Linked DNA regions of Homo sapiens. The protein of the gene in region 4 purifies or fractionates together with the protein of the main gene of each other region. This does not show direct contact. Each region holds a gene or a part of one and is shown on either strand. Other genes may lie near its edges.

The links. Proteins that work in one complex are often made in the same cells at the same time.
Region 1: the proteins of FAM133A (region 4) and DBT purify together in Homo sapiens (affinity purification with mass spectrometry; one large-scale study listed by BioGRID and IntAct). This does not show direct contact.
Region 2: the proteins of FAM133A (region 4) and PPIL4 purify together in Homo sapiens (affinity purification with mass spectrometry; one large-scale study listed by BioGRID and IntAct). This does not show direct contact.
Region 3: the proteins of FAM133A (region 4) and DNPEP purify together in Homo sapiens (affinity purification with mass spectrometry; one large-scale study listed by BioGRID and IntAct). This does not show direct contact.

Annotation. Positions count from the first base shown.
Region 1 is NC_000001.11:100,215,335-100,218,834, forward strand, and holds part of DBT (lipoamide acyltransferase component of branched-chain alpha-keto acid dehydrogenase complex, mitochondrial isoform 1 precursor), read right to left. Parts: intron 3,414-3,500; coding exon 3,292-3,413; intron 866-3,291; coding exon 649-865; intron 1-648. UniProt on the Homo sapiens protein: The branched-chain alpha-keto dehydrogenase complex catalyzes the overall conversion of alpha-keto acids to acyl-CoA and CO(2).
Region 2 is NC_000006.12:149,532,544-149,536,043, forward strand, and holds part of PPIL4 (peptidyl-prolyl cis-trans isomerase-like 4), read right to left. Parts: intron 3,196-3,500; coding exon 3,053-3,195; intron 2,232-3,052; coding exon 2,135-2,231; intron 1,032-2,134; coding exon 915-1,031; intron 1-914. UniProt on the Homo sapiens protein: PPIases accelerate the folding of proteins. It catalyzes the cis-trans isomerization of proline imidic peptide bonds in oligopeptides.
Region 3 is NC_000002.12:219,374,728-219,377,912, reverse strand, and holds part of DNPEP (aspartyl aminopeptidase), read left to right. Parts: intron 1-2,890; coding exon 2,891-3,058; intron 3,059-3,185.
Region 4 is NC_000023.11:93,705,206-93,708,705, reverse strand, and holds part of FAM133A (protein FAM133A), read right to left. Parts: intron 3,261-3,500; exon of another isoform or gene 432-3,260; intron 1-431.

The DNA.
Region 1 (3,500 bases), on a different chromosome or scaffold from region 4:
CAAATCAGAACTAGTTATTTTGAAAGCTAACTACAAATAGTGAATGTTTAAAATGTCCTGTGTGTCTTCAAACAGAGCAATTATCAATATACAAGTTTATATTTCAAGAAACCTGCTAACGTATTACTCTTCAGAAGATAATGATACACATAAATTGTAAGTGTTTCCTGGAAAAGCTATGCTATTTCACCATTTAAAAATTATGGCCAGGCGCAGTGGCTCACGCCTGTAATCCCTGCACTGTGGGAGGCTGAGGAGGGTGGATCACCTGAGGTCAGGAGTTCGAGACCAGCCTGGCCAACATGATGAAACCCTGTCTCTACTAAAAATACAAAAAATTAGCTGAGCATGGTGGCGTGCACCTGTAATCCCAGATACTCAGGAGGCTGAGGCAGGAGAATTGCTTGAACCTGGGAGGCGGAGGCTGCAGTGAGCCAAGATCGTGCCACTGCACTACAGTCTGGACAACAAGAACAAAACTCCATCTCAAAAAAAAAGAAAAGAAAAGAAAAATTATATGCTGACTGAAGTTGAACTTTCCCTTCAGTAAGACTTGAAAACACCATATTATATACATTTATCTACTGAGGTAGCTTCCCCCAAAATAAATGAACTATTGCCTTATAGTATTGTTATTATTATCATTACCTTTTATGGGTTCTGTTTTGTCTTTGCCTGTGAATACCGGAGGTTTTGATACTAGTATAGGAACAGTCATGTCTTTTGGCTTTGGTGGAGGTGGCATAATTTCAACTTTGGGTGAAGGAGGCAATATAGCTCCTGTCTGCTTTTCCAAATAGTTGAGGATATCTTCTTTAAGTATTCTGCCATCTTTTCCTGAGCCAACAACTTCACTCAGCTTAATCTAAAAAATGATATATTTTAATGCCAAAAATACAACTATTTAAAAACATCATTAAAGTTTCAAAATGGAATTTGATCAACTGACAGTAAAATATATCTGTCCAATAAATTAGTAAAAGGAAATAACCTTTTCATTTTCTACTTAAGTAATCATTACTTTTGTATATACTGTTCACATATGCATGTGGTAACCATCAGGTATCTATATTATATATAATCTAGAGCTATTTATGAAAACTTACTTTTTAAAAAAATTTTTTGTAGAGACAGGGTCTCACTCTGTTGCCCTGGCTGGTCTTGAACTCCTAGCCTCAAGCTATCCTCTCACCTCAGCCTCCCAAAAGTGCTGGAATTACAGGCGTGAGCCACTATGCCCAGCTGAAAACTTACATTTTTATACTCAAGTATTTTAAAATCTCTTGCATAATTCTTACTCGACCTTTTCTATTCTTGGGGACTACATAAGAAGAGGGAGAGCTGAGAATTTAAGAGAAACTAAATGCTATACCAAATTTAGACCAATGTTTCTGACACTGGCTACCAGTTAAAAACGTAACAACTTAAATAATCATAATACAAAAGCTCTCTCAAATTAGTTATTTTTCTGGTAGTTGCTTTGGAAAGATCAGTACAAAACATTTAATTCTATTTAAATAAAAATAAACATAAAAGCTTGGAATGATCTCCTCATATATAGTATGTATTAATTTCTTAGGGATAGGCCCCATTTCATTTGTATTAGTGCATCTCTAAGGATGACTAAAATAATAAAGGACTTTACTAAGGCAAACACTAAGTTTGTAACAAATGGACTATGAAAATTTAAACAAATAATTTTTAGGCAGTTACAAACAACTGTAAATGCCACTGGTTCTTAATTTTAAACAAACTCAATTCATAAATATGCAAATTCAAAGAAAAAAGATGATTTCTGATAACTAAATCCAATATTTAATTTTTAGTAATCATACAAGCACTCTACCCAAGTATTCTATACCCATCTTTAGGGAGTGTTTTAGGAAAGCCAAATCATACATTTCTTCTATATATTTCTTTCTATATTATTAAGAAAAAAATTATTAAAATGCTTTATAGATTTCAAAGCAAAATGTTAAATCATTATTTCATCTGATGCCCTTAATAACCTAATGTTCCACGTTACTATATCTATTTTCTGTTATGCTAAATGGTCTTCATACTTAAACACATTTAAGGGTTACATAACATTTTATCAAGGATACATAACATAATTTGAATGTGTATGCATCTTCTAATTTTTGGCTATATAAAATACAAGGAAGAATGATTCCTAGATTATTTTCTTGGGATAGTTCCCCAGTGGCAGGATAACTGGCTGAAAGAATATGAACATTTTAATGACTCTATTACATATTTCACAAAATATAAACTTTTATTTTTTTCCCACAGCAACCTTACTTTTCTCAAAAAGAGACAAACAAAAAGTCTCATTGTGGGGCACAGTGGAAAGTATTCAGGTTTCAGAACCAGACAGATTTGTGTTCAAATCCCTAGTTCAGCTTACTTGGTTTTAGATAAGTTAATCAACCTGCCTGCAGGGTCCTTGTGAGGATTACAGATGTGTCTATAGTGTCTGGCACATATGTGCTCAAATAATGGAGGCAATGATTGTTGAGGTTTATATAACATCTAACAGCACAGGTTTTGGAGTGATATAGACTCACTTTTGAATTCTGGCTCTTGCTATGTTAGCTGTGTGACTTTAGACTAGTTACTTAAACCCTCCAAGTCTTAAAATAGCTCCTTATCTTACAGGGTTAAATGAGAATACGTAAATACCTATCCCAGTGCCAGGGAGCCACCCTGCCTGGCATTCCACCTTCCATTCAGTCAATGACTGGCAGAGGAAATACAAAAGGCCGGCCTCCTTGCCTCAAAGCAGTAATTCTGTGGTTCTCCCTTGCACCCTCAGATCAGGCCAGAGTCTTTCTTTTTTTACTTAGGACCATGGCAAGCTTTGGGACAGGCCAGATGCTTGATACCATAACCATGTCTGGCCAATTTCCCTTCTCTTCTCTTTTTTATCTTGCTTCCTTCAGTCCCTTTACAGGTTTTCCCTCCTTCAAATTCCTATCTCATGCTGTGCCTCTAGAGCACCTGACATAAGACCTGGTATTTACAAGTGCTCAGTAAATGGTAGCTCTTACTGTTATTAGGCTCTAAGAAAGAATAATAAAATCATACTGCTCAATTGATAGTAAGTAATAAGTTTACAACTTCTCATTTCTCCCATGTATTTTTATGCAACTATTGCTTTTCAGTAGCAAATATCTTCATGTTTCCTTAATTTCATTGAGCTATTTCATCATGGGATAGTTGGCTAATTTTTCAGAGATACAAATGTACACTTCCTATACAATCTCAGACTTAAATATTAAGAGAACTTACATTGTTTTCCATTGCCAGACGGCGAACTGCAGGAGTTGCCAGTGTTTTTCGGCCCTTTATCTCTTGGTGTGTATGTTCATCATGAGACACTGCAGGAGTTTCAACAACATCTTCTTCTGAATCTGGTAACAAGGTAAAACTTAACTTCAGTTGAAAAAAAATTTTTTTTTTTTACTAAGATGTAAAGTAAGGCCACTAAGATGTGGCCT
Region 2 (3,500 bases), on a different chromosome or scaffold from region 4:
CAGTAAAGCTTTCTTGAACTATACAGCCTTTACTATTTGTTCATTCAGACAGTTGATGGTAATATAAACTTAAGCCTGGCCAACATAGGGAGATCCTGTCTCTACAAAAAAAATTTTAAAATTAGCAGGGCATTGTGGTGTGTGACTGTGGTCTCAGCAACTCAGGAGGCTGAGGCAAGGGCATTGCTTAAGCTGAGGAGTTGGAAGCTGCAGCAAGCTATGATCATACACCACTGTACTCCAGCCTGAACAACAGAGTGAGACCCTGTCTCTATAAAATAATAAATAAATAAACTTTAAAACAGACTACAAATCTGAAAGTTCTATTATATAAAATAGTAACTTTATTATCCATTCATTCCAATATTTATTATCTATGATATGACAGGTATGCCTATTCTACAAAAATAAGAAATGGAAAATAATACCAAGTAGGTCAATTAATCATCTACTGAATTATTATTCCCCAAATGACTTCAGGTTGTTAGTAATACAGAGAAGCAGTATATTTTAGAGTGCTCAGTTTCCACCCATTATTTTGCCCTACAACTACCATTCTGTTTAATCTTAACACTTGAGTGGTACAGTGAAGAACTATTCTTTAATATACATAAAATTCAGCCTGCTAAACACTCTTTAAGAATGAGATGAATATTAAACAACTGAAATTCAATTAATAAGTTAGAGATCCACTTCCCACTGTTTAAAAAGGCACTTAGCACTATATTGACAGTAGAGTCAAATTTATTTTCACAGTAGAGCCAATTTATTACTATGCCATACCAAATTTAAATCAGAAAAAAATCATAACTCAATTTTTAACATTTTAAGACTACTGAAGAGCCAGAAATAAACACTCAGTAAGTATTATTAGATATATTACAGAACAATTTGAACAAAGATAATTATCTTACCATCTCCAAAAGTATAGCCTGAGTTTTAGCCTCTTTTTCTGCCTTTATTTCTTCTACTTCCTCAGCTGATCTTCCTTTGAAATCATCAATTTCTTCATCTGCTCCTATTCGACCACTCTGTTAAGACAGAAGTTACTCATGTATATATTTAAAGAATAAAAAAATCTGAGAAACATAGAAGACATACTTTATTCTTAGTTATATCAAACATGCTAAAACAGTAACTGATCAAGGTTGCAGTGAGCTACAATCACACCACTGCACTCCAGCTGGGTGACACAGTGAGATCTTGTCTCTAAAAAAAAATTTTTAATAATTAATTGGACAGCAACTGAGACAAACTTATAAACCTCCAAGAATTGATTTATATTAATTCTAAAATATTAGCCAAAGTGGGCTTCTGTTAAAATCAAAATAGGCCAGGCATGGTGGCTCGTGCCTGTAATCCCAGCACTTTGGGAGAACACGCAGGTGGATCACTTGAGGTCAGGAGTTCGAGACCAGCCTGGCCAACACAGTGAAACCCTGTCTCTACTAAAAATACAAAAATTAGCTGGGCGTGGTGGCATGCACCTACAATCCCAGCAACTCAAGAGGCTGAGGCACGAGAATTGCTTGAATGAGGAAGGCAGAGGCCACAATGAGCCGAGATCCCACCACGCACTCCAGCCTAGGCAACAAAGTGAGACTCCATCTCAAAAAAATAAATAAATATTTATATGGACACTATTTATTATCCAATTCTAACTGCTGAATGAAGAGAAATGATCTGACAATTAAGCACCAATCCCAACCATAAAGACAAATTCAGCTTTCAGGAAGCCACATAAACCTTAAAATATGTGGGGGAACAGTCTGCGCTGTTTCACAGAAATTTCTGGGTTCTAGCCTGGCTCCAGAGTGTCCCCAGTTGAAAAGTTACCTCACAAGATAACAGTTTAATTTGATGACAAGAAAAACACTTTCCCAAGGTGTTCATGTAAGCTTCTAGAGCTGAGGTTGTCTCAGTAGAAAAGAAACTGAAGAAAGGAAATTAGAGAAATGAGAAGACAGCTAGAAAAATGAGTACCTCTGTGGAAAAGAAAAAGAACTCCAAACTTGTTGAATATAATTAAGCAAGATAATAATTCGGAAAAAATTAACTTTAACAGATGAAAAAGATAAATCCATACAAATCATTAATATGAATGTACATTTAATCATAAGAGGGCTTTACTTACATCTAATTGTTCCCTTGTAGGTTCTGGTGATCGATCAGGGATTAATAAATCAGGAGGGTCATCAAATGGATCATCTAAAATCACCGTATGATTTATCCTTACAAAATAAATCCAAATCAAATGTTATACATTGAAGTTATTTCAGAATCCTATTTTATTTTAATAGATTACAAAAAATTACTTGATTATCTCTAAGGCCAAAAAAAACCCATATTGCATATGGATATTACTAACCTAGATATACTTTCACAATGAGTGTTACTGTTTTGCATTGAGTGATACCATATTTATCACCCTGCATTACTTTAAGATGTAAACTAATATAACTGTCTAAATCTTAGTACTTTTGCCCTACTTCTCAATTAAAAAACTAAATTAAAGCATTAACAATTCCTCCAGCTGGGTGCAGTGGCTCATTCCTGTAATCCCAACACTTCAGGAGGCTGAGGTGGGTGGATCATGAGGTCAGGAGATCGTGACCATCCTGGCTAACATGGTGAAACCCCGTCTCTACTAAAAATACAAAAAATTAGCCAGGTGTGGTGGCGGGCGCCTGTAGTCCTAGCTACTTGGGAGGCTAAGGCAGGAGAATGGTGTGAACCCGGGAGACAGAGCTTGCAGTGAGCCAAGATCGCGCCACTGCACTCCAGCCTGGGCAACAGCATGAGACTCCGTCTCAAAAAATAAATAAATAAATAATTCCTCCAAACATAATTATAAATAATTAGTACAAGTATAAAAATACAAAAAGTCCTTTTTATTATAAAGATTCTTACAGTCTTATATTAATTCACCTTTTGGGATTAGAATTATCCAGAAACCAGTCCTATGCATACCGTTCCTATCCATACCACTACGTGTTAAACATCTCAATATTAAAACATTCTAGTACATTCAGATAGCAAATTGTAACCATACCTGATATCCTGATATGGTACAAAGTCCTTGTCAACAAAGGTCTCATTAATTTTCTTAATTATGTCCATGCCTTCTGTCACCTCACCAAACACCGTATGGACACCATCAAGATAATCTAGATTTTCTCCTGTGGTGATAAGAAACTATAAAGAAGGACACATAATAAATACCATAAAAATAATACATAACTCAAACTGAAATCAGTTACAGACTGACAAAAAAATACATGAAAGTTAAGAGTCCACATTTACTGCACCAATTCTTAGACACTTGTTACCAAAACTAAGTAAAAAGTACAAAGCTTATACTGGCATACCTCATTTTATTGCACTTTGCAGATACTGCATTTTTTACAATTAAGGATTTCTGGCAACCGTGTATTGAGTAAGTCTATTGGTGCCATTTTCCCAACAGCATAGGCTCACTTCATGTTTCTGGCTCACATTTT
Region 3 (3,185 bases), on a different chromosome or scaffold from region 4:
CTTGCTTTGTCTCCCAGGCTGGAGTGCAGTGGCATGATCATAGCTCACTGCACCCTCAAACTCCTGAGCTCAGAAGATCTTCCTGCCTCAGTCTCCCAAGTAGCTGGGACTACAGATGCATGCCACCATGCTGGCTAATTTTCTATTTTTAGTAAAAATGGGGTTCTTGCTATGTTGCCCAGGCTGGTCTTGAACTCCTGGCTTCAAGCAGTCCTCCCACCTTGGCCTCCCAAAGTGCTAGGATTACAGGCATGAGCCACCATTCCCAACCCCATTTCAGGAAATTGTTGTTTCAGTAAACTTGTACCTCATCTAATGCACAGATCACTTTCCGTTTTCCCCAGTTATCCTCAAAATATTTTTTTTACAGGTATTTGGCCCACCCTAGTATCCAACTCAGGACAATGCGTTATATTTGGCTGATATGTTGCTTAAATGTCTTCCAGTGTAGCACAGTTCCCCCCACCCCTTTTTAAATAGCATTGGCTTATTCAAGAAACTTCTGGATATGTCTCCTTGCTGCCCCATGGTGTCATTTAGCTTGTCTGTAAGCCCCGTATTTCCTATCAACTGGAATTTCTAAAGACTTGATGGATTCAAGTTAAACTTTTTTTTTTTTTTTTTTTTTTTTTTTTGACAGAGTGAGAGTTTCACTCTGTCGCCCAGGCTGGAGTCTAATGGCGTGATCTCGGCTCATTGCAACCTCCGCCTCCCTGGTTCAAGTGATCCTTCTGTCTCAGCCTCCAAAGTAGCTGGGATTACAAGTGTGCACCACGATGCCCAGCTAATTTTTGTATTTTTAGTAGAGACAGGGTTTCACCATATTGGCCAGACTGGTCTTGAACTCCTGACCTCAAGTGGTCCGCCCACCTCAGCCTCCCAAAGTGCTGGGATTACAGGTGTGAGCCACCGTGCCTAGCCTCAAGTTAAACATTTTGGGCTAGAAGACATGGCTGGTGTATTCATATGGCATCACACACATGATATCTGGGTGGGCCACCCTTAGCCTTGCAAAGATTGACCACTGGACCAGGAATGGCCTCTTATCCTTTCATTATATAGTGCTTTTCCCCTATTGACCTGACAGTGACCCATACAAGTGATGAGTTCCCTATTAACCAGATACCTAATGGTTTTAACACTTACAATAATCCTTGTCTAAATCAGTAATTTCATTAGAATTTACCGAAAAATGCCCGCTTCCCCTGAATTCTTTCAGTCTTCCATTCTTCTGTGAAGTGGAACTTCTTCCCTCCAATCAACTAGGGTTCTTTGGTTATCATGGAATATCATTCCTATTGATTGGAAAGCAGGATAAATGCTAATTCTTTCTGTTATCCACTTTTCAAGGTGAAATGTCGTCTCAAATAGTGACAAAGAAAGATTTTTCCTTTTCCTTTTTTTTTCTTTTTCTTTTTTTTTTTTTAGACAGGGTCTCGCTCTGTTGCCCAGGCTGGAGTGTAGTGTCGCAATCTCAGCTCACTGCAACCTCCTCCCCACAGGTGCAAGAGAGTCTCATACCTCAGCCACCTGAGTAGCTGGGATTACAGGCATGCACCACCATGCCCGGCTGTTTCTTGTATTTTTAATAGATACAGGGTTTCACCATGTTGGCCAGGCTGGTCTTGAACTCCTGGAATCATGTGATCTGCACACCTTGGCCTCCCAAAGTGCTGGGATTACAGGCGTGAGCCAGCACACCTGGCCTGCTTTTCCCTTTCTGACTATCTTAGAATCATGGAATTTCATTTATTCAGTGTCCTCTATAATTATTATATTTGATTTGTGAATTGCCATGGCTTTGACCAGTGGGAGCCCCTTCAGCATAACTCCTGTGCCCTTTGACTCTTGGAAGTCTCCTTGCTTTTTGGCACAACAAAAATTGTAGACATGTCTTGTTCATTTCGCCCCCCAGACTTGGTAGTTTTTGGCAAGCAGTGGTATTAGAGACCATAGCCTGGCACTGCAAGTGTTCATTGTTCTTGGGGGAGGGGACGGTGCTTTGGGTCCATTTCCATGGACATAGCAAGAAAAAAGTACATATTTTAAAAATCATGAAGCCAGGTGTGGTAGCTCAGGCCTGTAATCCCAGCACTTTGAGAGGTAGTGGATCACTTGAAGTCAGAAGTTCGAGAACAGCCTGGCCAATATGGCAAAATCTCGTCTCTACTGAAAATACAATAATTAGCTGAACGTGGTGGTGCGTGCCTGTAATCCCAGCTACTTGGGAGGCTGAGACAGGAGAATCGCTTGAACCCAGGAGGCAGAGGTTGCAGCGAGCTGAGATTGCGCCACTGCACTCCAGCCTGGGCATCGCAGGGAGACTCCATCTCAAAATAAATAAATAAAATAAAATAAAAATTTTTAAATAAAAATCATGAGTTAATACTGTAATTCTTATTCATAAAATTATTCTTATTTAGTTAAATAGTTACTACCTATTTGATTTTGTAATTCTGTTTTCTCTTACACTGAAAACCTTGATATCTAGCATCATATTTTCATTTTCTTATTTTTTTACCATAATATAAAGAAAATCATTTCAAAATGTCAGTAGCAATATTTTTAAAGACACTGATACCACTGAGTGATTTTTTTCTGTGAGTGTGGATATTAAGCAAGAGGGTGACAAGGATGGATACTTTTAAAAATCCCCCTTCCTGCTGTGTGGAGAATGGATTGGAACTAGGGTGGTGGCAATGCAGATAGAATGGGACCAATTCAGAATATATTGTCCTTTGGGGTCTGCCATTTAGCATTGGCTTTGATTTTATGCTCCGAATGGACCATCTCCCAGGCCCCTTCCCACCCTGCAATTCTAAGATGGCGTCCTCCTTGGCTCTGATAAGCACACACTGCATGTTGCTCATGGGTCTCCTGCTCTCCCTAGGATCTCATGGTCCGGAATGACACCCCCTGTGGAACCACCATTGGACCTATCTTGGCTTCTCGGCTGGGGCTGCGGGTGCTGGATTTAGGCAGCCCCCAACTGGCCATGCACTCTATCCGGGAGATGGCCTGCACCACAGGAGTCCTCCAGACCCTCACCCTCTTCAAGGTAACACCCACCCCAGACCCTCTCTGGCAGCTGGGCTGCTTCCCCTCTAGTGCCTGGATTGGTTGCTGGGACAACATCGCCATCACAAAGTGACTGGCCTGAGTAATGGGGGCTGGTTGTCATGCTG
Region 4 (3,500 bases):
TCTGTCAAGGACTGCTTAGTGTTTGCAATGGATTATCTCATTCAATCTCAAGGCCAGACCTATGAAGTTGATCCTATCATTGTCTCTATTTCACAGATAGATAAACTGAGGCTTAGAGAATTAGAGTAAAACTCAAAATTTGAACATGAAGTAACATGGCTAATAAATGGCATATCCAGGATTTAAACAAAGGCAGCCTGATTCCAAGCTGCACAAATAAGGCAACACCAAATTGTCTCCTTACATCAACCTCTTAATAGGTAGCATTTTTCCAACCTTACTCCCTTTTATTCTAGTCCCACACTGTAAACAGAGGGATCTTAAAAAACTCCAGTGGTTTTATATTTTAATGAAAAACAAATCCAATCTCCTATAAGGTCCTATATGATCTGCCCTACTTCTGTCTCTTACTTTTGTTTTGTTTCACTCACCTTTTTTCTCAATTCTTTTCATTTGGTTCCTGGAACATGCCGAATTATAGGCTTAGCCAGCATGGCCAATTCCACCTCATCCTTCAGGTTTCAGCTTAAATGTCAATTCCTCAGAAAGTCAACCATTAGGTTAAACTATGTAAAACTATTTTATGGGACACAAACAGTTTAAAGATCAACAACTTTTTATGGCTCAACCTTATACTAAAGTGGTTTGCCTCTCTGTCTACCCCTCATCCTCATTTTTCTGTATGATAGTTCATCGTTTATTTTATTTGTAGCATTTATGAAATTGGTAATTATTTTATTTGTGATTATTGCGTTATACATGTGTATCCACTGCTAAATGTAAGACCAAGAAGGGTAAAGGTCATGTGTGGCCTATCTTATTCACCACGGTGTTCCCATTACCTGACATAGAATCTGATCCATATTAAGCACTCAATAAATATTTTCTCAATAATAAACAAATAAATAAATGCATGGATGGATGGATGGGTAACTCTGAGAGAAAGGAGGATTCAGAGGGAGTGTCCTGGAGATGGTGATGTCTGTATAGGGTCTTAAGGAATGAACAGGCATTTACCCAGAAAATGAGGAAATTAAGGACAATCTTGGCAGAGGAAACATGAGAAAAGAGCAGCAGGTATTTAGAGTTGATGGAACCTAAAGATCAAGAGGGCAGGGGGAAGGAGGTAAGTTTGCAGAGATAAAAAGAAGCCTAAATATGGAGGCCCTCTTAGGTCATTTGAAAATCTTGAATTTTGTCCTATAGTTGATACAAGAGCCAATAAAGTCTTTTATATAGAAGAGAAAGACGATCAGACATATAATAGATTTTTCTATCAATCTCCATCTTAAATCTGATCCTTTAAGTCAACCTAACATACCTACCCATCATAAGCTCAATGCTATAGACATTTCAGTGACTCTTGGTGATAGTTTCCAACATCTTATTTTCTGTGTTCTTGATCTTATTCTCCTTCCTCTTTATTTATAGGCAGCCCTTTTAGGTCTTTCTGTAATTTTCATTCTTACTCTTACCCTAACCACGTCTCAAATATCATTGTGTCTCTGATTTGACCATTCAAAACTCTTAAATACTTCAGTTCATATTCAACTTGCAGCTTCTTTCTGTTACTTGACACTTACAATAGAATAATCCATTCTAATTTCAGTCCCTTGAGACCTAGTCCTGACATCAGCTAGAAAGATAGGCGAAGGCCAGTTAACAAAGGCTTTGGGTGGTATGCTAAGGTGGTTGGAATCTCTCCTGTGGGATTTACAGTGAAGCTAACGGGGAGACACTATTTTAAGCAGAAAAATGATATGGTCATATTTGAGTGTTTAAGGACAATTATTTGCCCAGTGACAGACGGATTGAAGTCAGGTTAAGACAGAAGGCAATGGGACCACTTAAAAATTCATGTAGACAAGAAATGAAAGAGTCTGAACTCAAACAGCAACACTGTGAATGAAAAGAATGAGAAATATATGAGACATGTTGAGAAGATTCTATTGAAATTAGTGACAAATTGGATACAAAGGATGAAAAAGAGAAAGAAATCTGGGGTAAGGCTCTGGCTCGACACATTAGACCAAAGGCAATGACAATGACTAGGTAATAGAGAAAATGGCACAGACTTCGAGAAAAGGTTCTAGTTTCCATTTTGGACTCCTGAAGTTTGAAGTGCCTATGAGATTTATGGACAATTATCCATGTAAGAAAGAGGATGTATGGGATTTGGCACTTTGGAAAGTGATCTGAGTTAGAAATACTGAACTGGCAGTCGCTGAGTGATAGCTAGGGTCATGAGAGAAAACTAAATTATTTTGCAGGGAAATTTCAAGTGGAAAAAAGTTTGAGACTGGATCCAACTGAACACCAACATGCAAGGGGTTGGCAGTGAATGAAAAACCTACAAAGTATGCATTAAGAAATTAGCCAGAGTAGTAAGAGCTGGACCAGTATCAGAAAAGAAAGAGTCAAGAAACACAGGGTGAATAAAGTTTCAAGGTGAGCATAAGAATCCTTATGACTCTGTAATGTTTAAATTTTCTACAAAAAACAAGTATTATCCTTACCTTTGAAAAATTCATAAAAATAGAAAAGATTTGTTACAGACAACAGTATTAAATGCAGAAGATCAGTCAAGTTCAGATCTGAAAATGTCCATTATACTTAGCTATCAAGAAGTCATTAGTAACCTTTGCTAATGCAATCTCAGCTAAGTGGTGAAGGCACAAGCCAGGTGACAGTGGGTTAAAAGACTGAATTGAAGGTGAGAATGTAGAGACCTAGAGTACATAGTCACAGTCAATACGGAAAGTAAAGAGATAAGAAGGCAACCATGAAAGATGCAGAGTTAAAATTCTTTTGTGTTTTTTTTTACATGAAAGAAACTTGAGCATATTCATAGGGCATCTAGAAGGATAAAGTACAAAGAAAACATGTTTTAAAAACCTAGGTAAGAGAAGAAATAACTAATGTGGCAATATCACAGAGAAAACAGAAAGGAATGAAATTAAATTCAGAGATAGAAAGAATTTCTTCCCCCAAGAGCAGAGGCAAAGAATAAAGACAGGGAATGGATGCAGGATTTTTTGTAGGGTGGTAGGAGGTAAAAGGGAGAAAGATGAAGTATTTCTCACATAATAGCCTTCATTTTCATTCAGTGGTAAGTGCCAAGGTTGTCTGCTAAGATTAAGACAGGAGTTTTGAGACCAGTAATTAAAATTTGGAGTAACAACAGAGAATGGGAGAGGGTGTTGTCACCATGTAAGTGTTGCTGGAGTTCTTCTGAACTGAAGAATCTGTATGATCCTTTCCTAGAAGATAAATCAAATTGAGAAAAGAGAAAAAGTAACACCAACAAAGTCTCTTGCTCAAATACTCTGTTTTAAAAGCACTGTGGCTTATCTTCTCTGTTTCTATTATAGAACAAAGAGTAACTTGATTTTCTGTACATCTACTTATTTTCATGAAATATGCTAAAATCCTGTAAAGGTTAGATATAAATTGTGACAATCATGCTAGTAATCTGGATATTATAATAATATTTGTTCATT